4 linked regions of the Homo sapiens genome follow. The protein of the gene in region 1 purifies or fractionates together with the protein of each later gene. This does not show direct contact. Each region holds a gene or a part of one and is shown in the gene's direction. Other genes may lie near its edges.

Evidence for each region. The genes of interacting proteins can lie anywhere in the genome.
Region 2: the proteins of EHD4 (region 1) and NT5C2 fractionate together in Homo sapiens (co-fractionation; one large-scale study listed by BioGRID). This does not show direct contact.
Region 3: the proteins of EHD4 (region 1) and GNAQ fractionate together in Homo sapiens (co-fractionation; one large-scale study listed by BioGRID). This does not show direct contact.
Region 4: the proteins of EHD4 (region 1) and GNA11 fractionate together in Homo sapiens (co-fractionation; one large-scale study listed by BioGRID). This does not show direct contact.

What each region holds. Positions count from the first base shown.
Region 1 is NC_000015.10:41,966,058-41,969,557, reverse strand, and holds part of EHD4 (EH domain-containing protein 4), read left to right. Parts: intron 1-3,442; exon of another isoform or gene 3,443-3,500. UniProt on the Homo sapiens protein: ATP- and membrane-binding protein that probably controls membrane reorganization/tubulation upon ATP hydrolysis. Plays a role in early endosomal transport.
Region 2 is NC_000010.11:103,092,273-103,095,772, reverse strand, and holds part of NT5C2 (cytosolic purine 5'-nucleotidase), read left to right. Parts: intron 1-1,317; coding exon 1,318-1,425; intron 1,426-1,734; coding exon 1,735-1,801; intron 1,802-2,463; coding exon 2,464-2,634; intron 2,635-3,500. UniProt on the Homo sapiens protein: Broad specificity cytosolic 5'-nucleotidase that catalyzes the dephosphorylation of 6-hydroxypurine nucleoside 5'-monophosphates.
Region 3 is NC_000009.12:77,790,812-77,794,311, reverse strand, and holds part of GNAQ (guanine nucleotide-binding protein G(q) subunit alpha), read left to right. Parts: intron 1-3,500.
Region 4 is NC_000019.10:3,111,362-3,114,861, forward strand, and holds part of GNA11 (guanine nucleotide-binding protein subunit alpha-11), read left to right. Parts: intron 1-1,968; coding exon 1,969-2,123; intron 2,124-3,500. UniProt on the Homo sapiens protein: Guanine nucleotide-binding proteins (G proteins) function as transducers downstream of G protein-coupled receptors (GPCRs) in numerous signaling cascades.

The sequences.
Region 1 (3,500 bases):
ATTTTTTTTTTTTGAGACAGTTTCGCTGTTGTTGCCCAGGCTGGAGTGCCATGGCATGATCTCGGCTCACCGCAACCTCCCCCTCCCGGGTTCAAGCAATTCTTCTGTCTCAGCCTCCCGAGTAGCTGGGATTACAGGCATGTGCCACCACGCCTGGCTAATTTTGTATTTTTAGTAGAGATGGGGTTTTTCCATGTTGGTCAGGCTGGTCTCAAACTCCCGACCTCAGGTGATTTGCCCGCCTTGGCCTCCCAAAGTGCTGGGATTACAGGCGTGAGCCACCGCGCCCCATCCCAAACTACACATTTTTAAGAGCTCCACTTTCTCCCTTCATATGCTCTGTTCCCTCTCCCCAGAAAACTTATTCTAATGAGGAAAAAAGAGGGAAGTCACTCAAGAAACTATATAGGCTTTAAAAGGGTAGAGAGCAGGGAAATAAGGCAAGAAAAGAAATAAACTCCCAGACTGGAGAGAAAAAAGTAAAACTCTTTGCAGATGACATGATCTTCTATGTAGAGAATCCTAAGAAACCACTTAAAAACTATTAGAACAATGGGGGAAACTATAGTTCAACAAATGGTGCTAGGACAACTGGATAGCCGCATGCAAACGAAATAGAGAATGACTGTTAGTGGGCGTGGAGTTTCTCTTTGATGTGATGAAAATGTTCTGAAATTGGATAATGATATTGGTTGCACAACTTTGTGAATATACTAAAGGAGTGCACCCTGTAAAAGAATAAATTTTCTGGTATATGAATTATATCTCAATAAAAAACCAAAACAATTCAGTCTTTCAACACTAAGCATCATGTGATTTAATTTTCATGATTCTGCAACTAGCGCCAGCCAAGTAATTTCTGCATCTATGTGTAATAATTTAAAATAGAAATGGATGCCAGAAAGAAAACAAAGTAGAAATAAGCTAGAAGAACCCAAGGGCAAAGGAACTAAAGAGTAAAGATGAGGGGCCAGGTGCAGTGGCTCACACCTGTAATCCTAACACTTTGGGAGACTGAGGTAGGTGGATCGTTTGAGCTCAGGAGTTCAAGACCACCCTGGGCAACATAGTGAGACCCCATCTCTACAAAAAAAAAAAAAAAAAGGAGTAAAGATGAGGGAAAAGGGAGTGAAAGTAGCCATCCCACAATCCCTGTATGAGTATTCTTGTCAATGTATAAACATGTTCATTGTTCATAACACTCAAGTTGGTAAAATCAAAGTATGATAAAAATTTTTAATAAAATGCTTGATACCGTAATTGTGTTTAAAAACTTTAGATATTAACATTTAACTATAGTATTTAATAGGGGAAAAAAGGGGCAGGGGTGCATGTGCAAGGGTGCAGACAAGGTTTATGGGCGGTATGAAGGATCAAGAAGCTGGAGTGGGCTGAGAAGGTAAAAGTGCCTTGGACATTAAAAAAGCCTTTTAAGGTATGATTAGAACAAGAACAAGAATCAGGAAGTGATCGGCCCACTCATGGGCTCTTGCTGCAATATTAACAGAAAGCAGAACTACTCAGCTTCCTCCTTTTCCTCAAAGAAAATGCCCCAGAGATGGCAGAAGGGAGCCCAGCTGTGTTCAAGAGGGGATTAAAACCACAGGCTGAGGAGCTCTCCCAGGGCCTGCCACAGGCGAGGTTCAGGAAATCTCTGGCCGGACACATGGATGAAAGAACTTGCATTTCTGCTCAAAGAACTGTATTTGGTGGCTTTTAAGAAATTGTGAAGAATATGAAAAGTATTGGAACACTGGAAGCAGGCAGATGTTCTCATTTTCAAAAAAGCAGGGAAATGGATTCTGAATAGGAACAAAGGCCTGCTTCATTCCCTTGATAAGTTTCTAGACTCAGTAATTAAGGAAAAGGGAAGTGAAGGCATTCACTAATAGGCAGCCTGGTTCATCTATTTTTAAAAAAATAAAATCTCACACAGAAAAACTATGGGTCCTATTTAGTGGTTCTCACACTCATCCAGATACTGGGGCTCCTGAAAATCAATCTTCTGTTCCAAATATTATACCCTTTACAGATCTCTCTAAAATATTGAGATATTTAATTTTTACAGAAAATTAGACTATATTTTCAATATACAATATAAGATCACACCTACAGATGCTAGTGTTCATTTATTCAAATGATCTTGATTTCAGGGTTGGGGCCAGCCATCACAGAAGAGAGTCAACAGGCCACAGCTCTGAGTGACAAGGGCTGTAACACTAGAAACACAGGGTGGCTGGGGGCATAGGAGGGACCCCCTCATTCAGGCTTGCGGGTTGGAAAAGGCTGCCTCCCTGAGAATGCAGCCTAAAAGCTGAGCCCTGAGGAATGAGCAGAGAATTAGCTGCCCAAAGAGGGCCAGGGAGTGAGGGTGGGGAGGTGTCACCCATGAGGCCTCGGTTTCTGGGGTAACTGGGGAGTACAGCTGTTCACTGAGATGGGGATCCAAGAAGAGGAAGGATGGGGCATAATGATAAGTTTAGATTTAGACCTGTCATGTTTGAGTGGACACCAAGGTGGCGATGTCCATGAGGGGTAAGACATGGGTCTGGAGCTCAGGGAGATATCTGGGCTGGTCTGTTGACTTGGGAGTGTCAGCATTTAGTAGCCAGCATCTGGGAAGTAGAAGTCCTTGCACAGGACTCTTAAGTGAGAGGAAGCAGAGCTTGTGGAGACCCTCCGGGGAAAGTACCAAAGAGGTGGGTAATTGCCTGGGAGGGTAGTGGCTCAGTGCTGTCTCAGATCTCTTTAGGTTGCAAGTGACAGAAATCCAACCAAAGCTAGCTTAGATAAAAAGATAAGAACGTTTTCCTGAAACCCATCAGACCAGGATGTGCAAGCTTCAGGCTTGGCCCAGGACTGCAGGAGACACACCAGGACTCTGTTGGCTCTGTGGCCCTCCTCATGTTGTGTTCCTTCTCAGGGGTGGGCAGGCGGCCACCTCCATTTCCAGCCTCGAATTCTGCTGGCTCAGCAGCCCCAGTAAAAGTCTCAGGCTTGAGTCTCATTGGTTTGACCCTGACCATATGCCCATCCCTGAACCAATCCTTAGGGGCAGGGGCATGAAATGTGGGGAGTGGGGAGGTCAGCCCCACCAACCACGTGGCCTGAGAGCTGGGGAAGGCAGCTCCTGAGGATGCTGCTACCAAGAAAAGGGGATACGAGGCAAGTAAAGCAACGATGACCCCCACAAAAGCCAGGGAGAGAGGTGGTGGTCAGTAGTGTCAGATGCTTCCAGGAAAAGGACTGAAACAGAACCAGTAGATTAGCCTTTGGGAGCCAGGTGACCTTGCCAAGAGGTGTGCCTGTGAGTGGTGGTGAAGGAAGCCAGATGGCGCGGGTTGAGGAATGAGTGGGATGTGAGGCGTCAAATTCTCAGCAGCTAGGCCTGGGGGAAGGAGGCCTGGCCACAAGCATCACAGGGGTTTGGGTAAAGACAAGCACAACCTCAGCAGAATGAAAAGTGGACAGAAGGGAAGCCATGGAGAGGGAGCAGCTGG
Region 2 (3,500 bases), on another chromosome or scaffold:
AGAATTTAAAATCAAATTGCTAATTTAGAGTCCGCAACTTGAATACTTAATAGACAGAAATAAAAGGGATATTCATGTGATATTTAGTAGGATGGGATCAGAATAATTTTATGCCCAAGAAGTTCTATGCAAAATTAAGTTTGTGTGGCAATGAAAGGAATTTTCAGGTTGTGGATGATATTTGATTAACAGAAACAGAAAATGTATGTGTATTCTTGACAACTTCTAGATTTTGTATTAGTTGTTGCTAAGTTTTTGCCAAGAGAGCACTCAGCCTTGATATTTAGCAGAGAAGTCTTCATTTCTGCAGTACGGCTGCACTTAGGTTTAAGGAATACTCCTTGCAACTTAGTCACATACTTACAGAATTTTAGTCCTAGACTTTAGTGAATAAACATCAGCAAATCCCTGTTTTGAGAACACCTGAAATCACAGTGTGCAGTGCCCTTCAGGTTGGTCTTAAAAGGTTAATGCCAGGGTTCCATTTCAGGATAGTCATGATTTTAATGGGCATAACTCAGTATTGTGATTAGCTTACACTGTGAGCCAAAAGCCAGTGTGTACCTAGAGCCATCATTCTGAGAATGTAACCAGTAAAATTTCCTAATAGTTCCATGTTAGTTTGTATACTTTAGCTCTGATGCCTGCCTCTGTCTTAATCTGTCCCTTGGGTATTGATTTGCATCTCTCCCTAGCTCTTTTGAGCTCCTTTTAGCAAATTTCAGGTGAGCACACTTTCATAAAGTGCTGTAAAATAAGTATTGTAATTTAGTAGTAGATGAAATGATTTAATGTATAGAATGTGTTATTACAGTTATTTATTATTTATATCTTGTCTGCTTCCCAAAGGATATGGCTTATAATACATAGACACAATTTTTTTTTTTTTTTTGAGATGGAGTCTTGCTCTGTTGCCAAGCTGGAGTGCAGTGGCACGATCTCGGCTCACTGCAACCTCCCCCTCCTAGGTTCAAGCGATTCTCGAGCCTCAGCCTCCCAAGTAGCTGGGACTACAGGCGCCCGCCACCACGCCCGGCTAATTTTTGTAGTTTTAGTAGAGACAGGTTTTCACCATGTTGGCCAGGATGGTCTTGATTTCCGGACCTTGTGATCTGCCCGCCTCGGCCTCCCAAAGTACTGGGATTACAGGTGTGAGCCACTGTGCCTGGCTGACACAATACCTTTTTAAAAAATAAAATAGTGGGATCTTCTGGCTATACTTAGTATTTTTATATTCCTTGCATCTGAGTGAGATTAAATAGTAATGCCTTAAGGTAAGGAGTGATGTTTCAACTTTTGCTGTTTCTCCTTCACCAGCCTGGGAGCTCCCATCGACCATGGCAGTCCTACTTTGACTTGATCTTGGTGGATGCACGGAAACCACTCTTTTTTGGAGAAGGCACAGTACTGCGTCAGGTGGATACTGTAAGTCATGAGAATGATCTGTCTTGCTAGCACATTGTCCTTAATGTTTCTCCTTCCCCCACTCTTACTCTACATAAGGAAACAGGAATTTTTTTTTTTTAATTAGCCGTATCTCTCTTTTGAAATTAAGAGTTTTGGTCTTAACTGAAACAGTCAAACAAACCCACTAATTGAAAAGAGTAAGTGCCATTCATTTGGCTGTCTGGCCAAGTAGCACTGGTGGTGGGGGGTGGGATGGGAGGGTTGTGGGGTGAGGGGAGGATTGTGATAGGATGATAAAGTATTACAAAATCCATATTCTTCATACAGAAAACTGGCAAGCTGAAAATTGGTACCTACACAGGGCCCCTACAGCATGGTATCGTCTACTCAGGAGGTAAGTCACAGACTTCCCTTTATTTAATGTCTTTGCTCAGACCTCACAGTGAAAGCTTTGGTAATCTCTCAGCAAAGTGCCACATATACTGTTTAGTAGTCTAAGATGTCATCTACTGAAGGTAAATAGTTTAGTCACCTCTTAATGCAATAGGAGTCTGGGTTTGAGCAGTTGTTAGTATATCCTAATGAATCTGATTTTCACTAAAATGATCAGTTTTTTTTTTAAATCCTATTGGAGGCTTTTTCTCAGTGCTTCGAATCACTTGGGGGTACTTCTCAATATGTTCTCAAGGGTTTCTCAAGGAGTTCCATGGGTATAGGTACATAGTATGTTGGAGTTATAAACAGTTGAGTAAAGCCAGCTTAATGGCAGATTTGTGATGAAATTGGCAGTGGCTGTTTTGAAGGTTATTTTCACTAAGCTGAGGATGTAGTTTTGTTGCTCTTGGATTTGGTGAGCAAGAGCTCTGGTCAGCACAGTGGAGCTGAAGGCCTTGTCTTAGAAGGCAGTAAAAAGAGAATGGTGAGTCTTTGTCTATTCTTCCTAGTCTGTTCCTCATATAAGAATAAAATGAATCATAGTATTTAATGGTTAAATACTATTGGAATGCTGATTTTAATATAGGGACAGTTTTCTCATTGTTCACTCTGTTGGTTCAGGTTCTTCTGATACGATCTGTGACCTGTTGGGAGCCAAGGGAAAAGACATTTTGTATATTGGAGATCACATTTTTGGGGACATTTTAAAATCAAAGAAACGGCAAGGGTGGCGAACTTTTTTGGTGATTCCTGAACTCGCACAGGAGCTACATGTCTGGACTGACAAGAGTTGTAAGCCATTCATAAATCTTTGGTGTAATTTATATCTAAATGACCAGCTTTGAATCAGTCGTCTTTGATAAACCATTACTTTGTATTCAGGAAGTCAGAGGTGGTCAAAAGGCAGGCCTTGATATTTGGATACTTCCTTCCCATAGAATATTCAGATATTTCACAGAACTCCAGAATTTGAATAAATATGAGAGGTTATCTTGTTTAACCTTCTTGAATCTCTTCGAGGTTAAGTTTAGAATGTTGGCGTCTTGAGTTGTGTTACAGTAACACTAAGTTGTGAACTGGAGCTCAACTTTTCCTCTGTGGTCCCATATTTCCCCAACCATGCCTAGCAGTCCCAGTCTCTCTGCTAACAGCCCATATCTGTGATTCTGGGGCAGTGATGGCTCTGAATGTTAATCACCTCTGGTATTTTTTATTTACTCTTCTGAGATCTAGAGAATGAGGCCATATTGTATTCTTGAACTAAGCTATGCTGTGTATATGCAGTATACACACTGTGCTGAACTGAGTTACGGATATAGTTCTGTAAAAGTGCTTGATATACAAGTTCTCCAGCCAGCCTTGATGCGCATTACCTGCAGTGTGGTGAAGGTGACTCCGGAAACTCAGCCTGCCTGGGGTAGGAGCCCTGGCTCCATAACTTGAAATCTGCATGCCGTTAGGCAAGTTAATGAGATACCCTGTGCCTTAGTTTCCTCAAATGTAAAAATGGGGATAATACCTACCTCCTAAAGCTGATGAAAAACGGAGGTAATATGTGTATAAAGATAGACATGACAGCCTTTCTCAACCAAGGCTCCATATCCGAAACACAGAAAATTATTACTATTATTTTACCTTTCCAATGGAGCTGAATACAG
Region 3 (3,500 bases), on another chromosome or scaffold:
GTGGTAAGCTCTTCTGTCAGATGTGTGAGCAGGTCTTTGTGTTCAAATCTAATTAGAGCCTATTTGATACTTTTTAACACTATGCAGAGGTTCTGAAAATGAAAATAACATGGAAATCCTAGGCTAATCATCAGATCATTTTATAGTCTTCCTCCTACAGGATAGAACTGGGAGTGTTGGAGTGAGTCATCCTGTTTTGTTTTGTTTTCATTTTGTTTAAATCATTGTTTGTGTGATGGGTGTGTCCCAAAGAGTACTCAAAATCTCTCTTGGCAAATGTGAATGACTTCGCAGCTGGGCTCTAAATCAGTTCATTATGAACCATGGAATATCTTGGTGATGCGGCCTTTCTGCTCTTATAGAATTCTCTAGGCTGTTGCATAATTTTGTCTCTATTAAGCAGTGAGCAGTTGAAGAAGTATCCTTAATATGCCTGTCTGGAGAACAATTTCAGTATTGTTATCTCCTCCCTGTTACAGGGAAACTTAATAGGTGTAAATGTGGATTTTCAGGATGGTAAAGACCTGACGATGAATCGATTATGGAATATATTAAGGGATGTAGAAATCTGTACTTCTGAGCTGTAGTTGTGTGCATGTGTATGTGTGTGTTGGGGGAACGGGGAAGACACCATTGATATCCTGTTAGAGGCAGAGATTGCAGTGTGGTAGGTTAATAATAAATATTAAATATCCCAATAATAGGGTAGCAAAAAAGAAGGAAGTGAGAGATCCCCGTTTGCTGACTAAAATAGGATCTAGCATATTATGCTTTTAATACAGTACATTTTTTAGGTACACAAGAATTCCTGACTGGTTCTTTTAAATATTTTTCTGCCAGTATTAATATCTCCATTAAAATACATATCCAAGCTCCTATAGTATTTCTTTTATGTATAGGATTGATAAAGTTTCCGTGAACCAATGTCTATATAGAACCGAGAGTCACCTGTTCATGCATTTCGGAATCATTCCTGAGTTACAAGTATATTGGCTTTGGAGTTAACCAAATAACTTCTGTTTAAGAATGAGGCTTGTTTATCAATCAGTTGCCCCCAATAACTCTAAAGCAAAGTGCCTAAAAGCATGCTACAATATATGACAGTAAGTTACCAAGATACAAGGCAGTTACTGTCAGAATTTTAGCTATGATATCTTTATCTGTATATCTTTATGTCTGTGCTTGTTTGTTACATAATCCCTGGATGTAGTATTTTAAACATACTGCATATTTTGGGAGCAGATCTATTCTAACACTTCTGATTTTTTTGAATGTTGTGTCAAGACAAAAAAATATTTTGAGGGCTTCCCTACTATATGCTGGGTACCAGAGTATCTAAAAAGACACAAAAATGGGGAAAAAAATCAACTCTGCCCTAGAAGACCTTATAAACAAGATATGCTTTTGGTCAGAATAAGCCATAGGGGGAAAGGTAAGCCTTTGTTATGTAGGTTGTCATTTCTCTTCTTTAATTTGCCATCCAGTAAAATAAAATTTGCATTTATCAATTACACAAGAGATGTAAGAAGCAAATGTGAATTTATTTCTGATGTTTACATTATAGCTAGAGGAGGACAAGTGTTTATCAATACACATTTTCCACAAGATAAATGCATTATATATATATGAAGAAGTATATGTCATGATGTAATACTTATCAATTTACCACTTCAAAATTATCAAAATAGAAAAGAAAGTAGAATCCTTTGGCAACTCATCAGCTAATTCAGTTCAACCGAATTGAATCTGGTTCTTCAGTTATCTGAACATTACAGATCATTTATTCCATTTTTCCTCAGACATAGCTAATAGTGACTAGATTTTTATATAAAAGTATATTATGTTAATTAGAATAAAATGGCATCGTTTTTATTATCATGTGTCATAATTAAAGTTCCCACAGTAACTTGACATTCAATGTACAGGTACTAAGAACGTCTAAAAATATTGTCCCAGTTCCTTTGATTCCTGTGGTGATGTCTTATGCTACTTTTAAATAATTACAAATTAAAATAATAAAGCTATCATTTTTTCATTAGGACTCCCTAATCACTTGTGAATCTTTTGAAAGTCTAGGTAATTCTATAAGATGAAAGTCAACTTGTACGGTGTTCCTTTCTGAGACCTCTAGTCAAGCCTGATGATAGTATGGGATCATGAGAAAAGTGCTGTTCATTAATTCCTTCATCCATATTAGCCACAGCTATCACTGTCTGTAATTAGGAAGTACTGTCAAAAAAATATTTTTTAATGTTGGGATGTAGTCTCATTACCCCTTTTTTTCCCCAGTTGTACTAATGTATGATAATGTCATTGCCTCTCAGCTTCCTTAATCATTAAGAAAATTCAGAACTACAGAATTCTAGTTTCCCCAGATTTTTTGGTTTTGGTGAGACAAAACTGAAATAAACTCCAGAAACATTTTGTTCTTGGTTTAGAAGTCTGATGTTCATAACTTTAATCCAAAGCAGACTTTGTTGTGCCTCCCTCCCTTGGTATATATTTGTGAGAAAAACCTAGGAATGGATTCTGACAGCTTTTCTTTCTATCCCAGGAAACTGTGGAAAATGCATTGCAGACCACAGACAAAAGCAGCTAAGGGAAGCATTTTAGATTATTGCTTTTGCTTTTTAATATTTCTAAAACCTTATAAATCTTCATAATTTTATGTAGGTCTGCTTTTGTCTGCCTAGATTCTCAGCCTTTCTATTGTTTGGGGAATGAATTTCTTTTTTCCTTCAAAGAAGGAAATACATTATCAAATAGTGGCTAGAATACCCAGGGTGGTAGAGCTGTGTTGATTTGCGTATTCCCTTTACTGTCTTATTGATGTGTGTATTCCCTTTGCTGTCTTATTTTCCCTGTGATAACACACCAGCATGGAATCCACTATTCTGCTGTAATCCTTTCATGGGTATGTTATTTCAGTGCTCCTGAAAGCCCAAAGCACACAATAAGACATGCTTATAACATATTTTAGTTTATCAGTGTGTATCCAAACACTGCCTTTTAATCTTTATTTTTCTGATTTTCTGTTTCATGAATATCTGAGCACTACTACAAAGATGTTTTCTCAGACATTGTCTCAATGACTGTCTTCCAGGCTAAGCTCTTTATAGAATCTCAAAGACTGAGACCTTTTTCTCCTCCATGTCCTCTTTGAATGTGAGCTTTGAATTTATTAATCATCTTGAAATGGTCATGAGGAATTATGTTATCATTTTATTAAAACGTCAAGATAGTTCTCCCTACCCTAGGCCCTCCTTGATCAAGGTGGATTCCCTGACCTTGGTTTCCATAAACATGTATTCATCCTTCAAACCTGATTTTTGAAGTTGCTCAATTGATAAAAGGAAAGCATAGACGTTTATAATACCTTAGCACTTTATACCCAAAACTTGCTGAAGCTGCTACTCATCAGAATCTACCAGCTGACCTCACCGTGGCGGGGACAGATCAGGTTTGCTGGTGTGCGTCATAACGATGAGGTTACAGGAATG
Region 4 (3,500 bases), on another chromosome or scaffold:
CCTGCCTCTGTGGATCGGTCTGTCCTGAACATTTCATAGAAATGGGATTGCACGCCATGTGGCCTTTTGTGTCCGGCGTCTCTCACTGAGTGTGACGTCCTCAAGGTGCATCCACACAGTGGCCTGTGTCAGAGCCTCGTCCCTGTTCATGGCTGAGTCATGTTCCAGTGCATGGAGGGACCGCGTATTTGCCCATTTATCCCCTGGAGGACATTTGAGTGCCTTCATGTGTGGGCTGTTGGGAACGGAGCTGCCGTGACCGTCTGTGGACGTGTGTTTATGTGGATGATGTGTTCCCTTCCCTCAGTTGCATGCTACGCCTGGGAGCAGAATTGCTGGGTCCCAGGGTGACTCTGGCTTTGCCCTCTGAGAAGCGTCCAGAGAGTTTGCCCCAGTGGCCGCCCTATGGGGCAGGCCCAGCAGCCGTGCAGCCGTGGCTCCTGCCAGTGGCCTCCCTGGGGCCTTTCAGCTGAGGGGCCATTGATCCCGCTTTCGTAGCCCTGCTTTCAGGGGTAGGGCTCTTGCCCTTAGATCTTGGTTTGCCACTTGCCCTGTCTCCCGCTGTGATCTCTTCCAGCTGTGGCCCTCTCTGAGAGTCCATATTCATATTTGGGCTTAGATCTCCATCAGCTTCTGAAACACGCATCTGCAAACTGCAGACTGATTTTGTCGATAAAGTTTTATTGGCACATACCCATTTCTGCCATGTTGCCCATGGTGCTTCAGCAGCAGCAGCAGAGCCGAGTGCTGGAGACAGTCCGTGTGGTCGGGAAGGCTGGGTGTGCTCTCTGGCTCTCTGCAGAAGCAGATTGCTGCTGTCTAATCTGGAAGTTTCCAGGGAGTGGGATTTTTGGGGTTTGTGTCTCTTTTTCCAAGTCCCCCTAGGTGTGCTTATCCCAGCCCAGATTGAGAGGCTGGGGGCAGGGCAAGGGGAGGGCTGAAGTCGGAGTCCGGGGCAGGGAGCGTTGCTCAGAGGGGACAAGCAAGGGCTGAGTCTCCACTCTGGGGGGCCTGGGAGGGCCCCGTGGCTCCCAGAGCCCAGGGCAAGGCTCCCTTCTTTCCCATCTGGGTCCCACCCAGTATGTCCCCTCCCCAGTCCCTCAGCCAAACTGTGGCTGGTCATGTCGGCCTGTGCGCCCCGGGGACGGGGACACAGAGCATCAGGAGGGGAAAGGATGGCCCCCCCACAGTGTCTGCCCCAAAGGGTGTTCACATGTGTGTGCAAGCACGTGTCTGTGCGGTTGGCCTTCCTTTGTGACAGGGCAGCAAGCTGGGGCCTGATGCCACCCGCCGCCCAGGGTTCCGTGAGGGGGAGGCGGCTCGTGTTGGGGCACCATGTAAACTGTTGAGTGCGGCAGCTCGGGGGCCACACGCCGTCCTTAGCACCGGGTGTGGTATCTGCTCTTGATGATGTTTGATAAGCATTTTTCGGACGAAAGAGAGAAGCCGGCGGGGCAGAAACCGAGTCTGGAGCTGCACACTGCAGGCGATGCCGCTGGTTGCAACGTCCTGTGACTGGGCTTCCTGCCTCCCGGTGTGTCTGGAGAATTCGAGGCAGCGAGTGCTGGGGCTGTTGGTTAGTTCTGTCGTCGTGCTTGGTCGTGCTCGGCGCTGCACTGCCCTCCTGTGGGTCCTGGGTTTGAAGTGTGTGTGTTCTACACGTGCTTGTTCCCCACACCGTCCCCTCCCCACCTCTAAGAAGTGAATCGAAGCCCGGCCTCCCCGGCACCCTGCAGACCGCACCGCCGGGAGGCTTTGCTTGTGGGGCCTTGTTCGGAGGAACCACACCGCCAGGCGGCCTCGCGTTTTTCTGACACGTGTTCACACGGAACTGTCAGTGGTCCTGACTGCACAGCCTGCGGAATGCCGCCCGGGCCAGCCGAGGCCTGGAAGAGGGGCCGTCACAAGCTTTCTGGTGGATGTGTGGCCCCAGCGAGCTCTCGACGTCTCCCCTGCCCGCCCTCGCAGGCCAATGCGCTCCTGATCCGGGAGGTGGACGTGGAGAAGGTGACCACCTTCGAGCATCAGTACGTCAGTGCCATCAAGACCCTGTGGGAGGACCCGGGCATCCAGGAATGCTACGACCGCAGGCGCGAGTACCAGCTCTCCGACTCTGCCAAGTAGTAAGTGCGGCCGCACCGCTGGCGGCCTGGGGACGGCAGCTGCGGGCCGGTGCCTGGGACCCTTCGGGAAGGCCTCCGCGGCGTCTGTGGTGCCCCCTGCCTGCTCGCCGGGGGCAGGGATGCGGTGGGCCCGGGCCACCTGGCCGGATGGAGGGACCAGAGCAGATCCCTGGAGGGGCCACGCCTTGGCAGGAGCCGGTGGACTCTGGTGTGACACTGGCCTGCTTGTATGCCTGGCCCTGCCGCTGCCCTCCCTGGGTCAGGAGTGAGCTCCTGGCCACCCTCGGTGCTGGAGCCCGGCCTGTGGCCTGTGGGGGAAACCCAGGGTCTCCTAGGAGGGCCGTGGGATGGGAGGTAGACACAACCTGGGCCGTCTCGCTCCTGCCTGGGACATCGTCCCCAGAGCCACGTCTCCCACTAGTGACTGGCTGTGACCTTGACTGATGTCAGGGTTCTCCCAGTCTCTGGGCCTGGGATAGGGGGTGACTTGTGTGCTGACAGGTGGCCGGGCCATGGCCGCAGGTGGAGGCCCCCGCGTGGCAGGCTGTGCACTGCTGCCCTCCATGCTTGGCAGGCAGAGGCCCCGGCCCTCCCCCAGCACCGGGAGAGACCCTAAGGCGACAGGGACAGGCCTGTCCCCCGCCCCTCCTGCCCGTCCTCTGTGTGTTCCCTGCCTCTGGGAGGTTGTGGGAGGGCCCAGATAACCAAGCACTTGGAACAAAACGCCAGGGCCTCCTCGCGGTGCCGGAAAGGTCTGAGCAGGCACCCGGCCTCTTACAACCCCCACCCCAGGCAGACCACTCGAGGGGCGCCCCACTCAGGACTGCCCAGGGCGTCAAAAACGGGAAACTGTCCCAACCCAGAGGGCTGGGCAGGAAAAGGCATGAGGGGAACCAAGGAAGCCGGAATCAAGCGTGGACTTCAGTAGCTGCGCTGTGTAGACACTGGCTCATTGCTCGTGGTGGGTGCCGCACCCACGTACAGGGAGCAGCAGGGAGACGGGCACGGGGATCTGCTGGGACCTCTGCAGCCTCTGCAGCTGCGACTCTCCTAATGATGCGCTTGTTTGTGAAGCCTCATCCCTGGGGCCAGCCAGGCCTCTCTCGGGAAGTCCCCTGCCCTGGGTCACCGTCTCCCTCCTTGGTGGCCGTCTCTGGACAGCTCTACTACAAACCCCCCGAACCAGCTGGAGTCCTCGTCCTGGGACTTTCTCTTGTGCTGGGTCATTTCTGTCCCCTGAGACCCCAGAGAGGATAGAGGTTGGGAGGCTCGTATCCCGACCCCAGGGTCTCCATTGGCCCGAGCCCTCCGGGCTGCTTCAGACACTGCCGTAGGTGGCGCAGTGCGCGGTCCACCCCCTCCTGGTGGCTTTCCGTC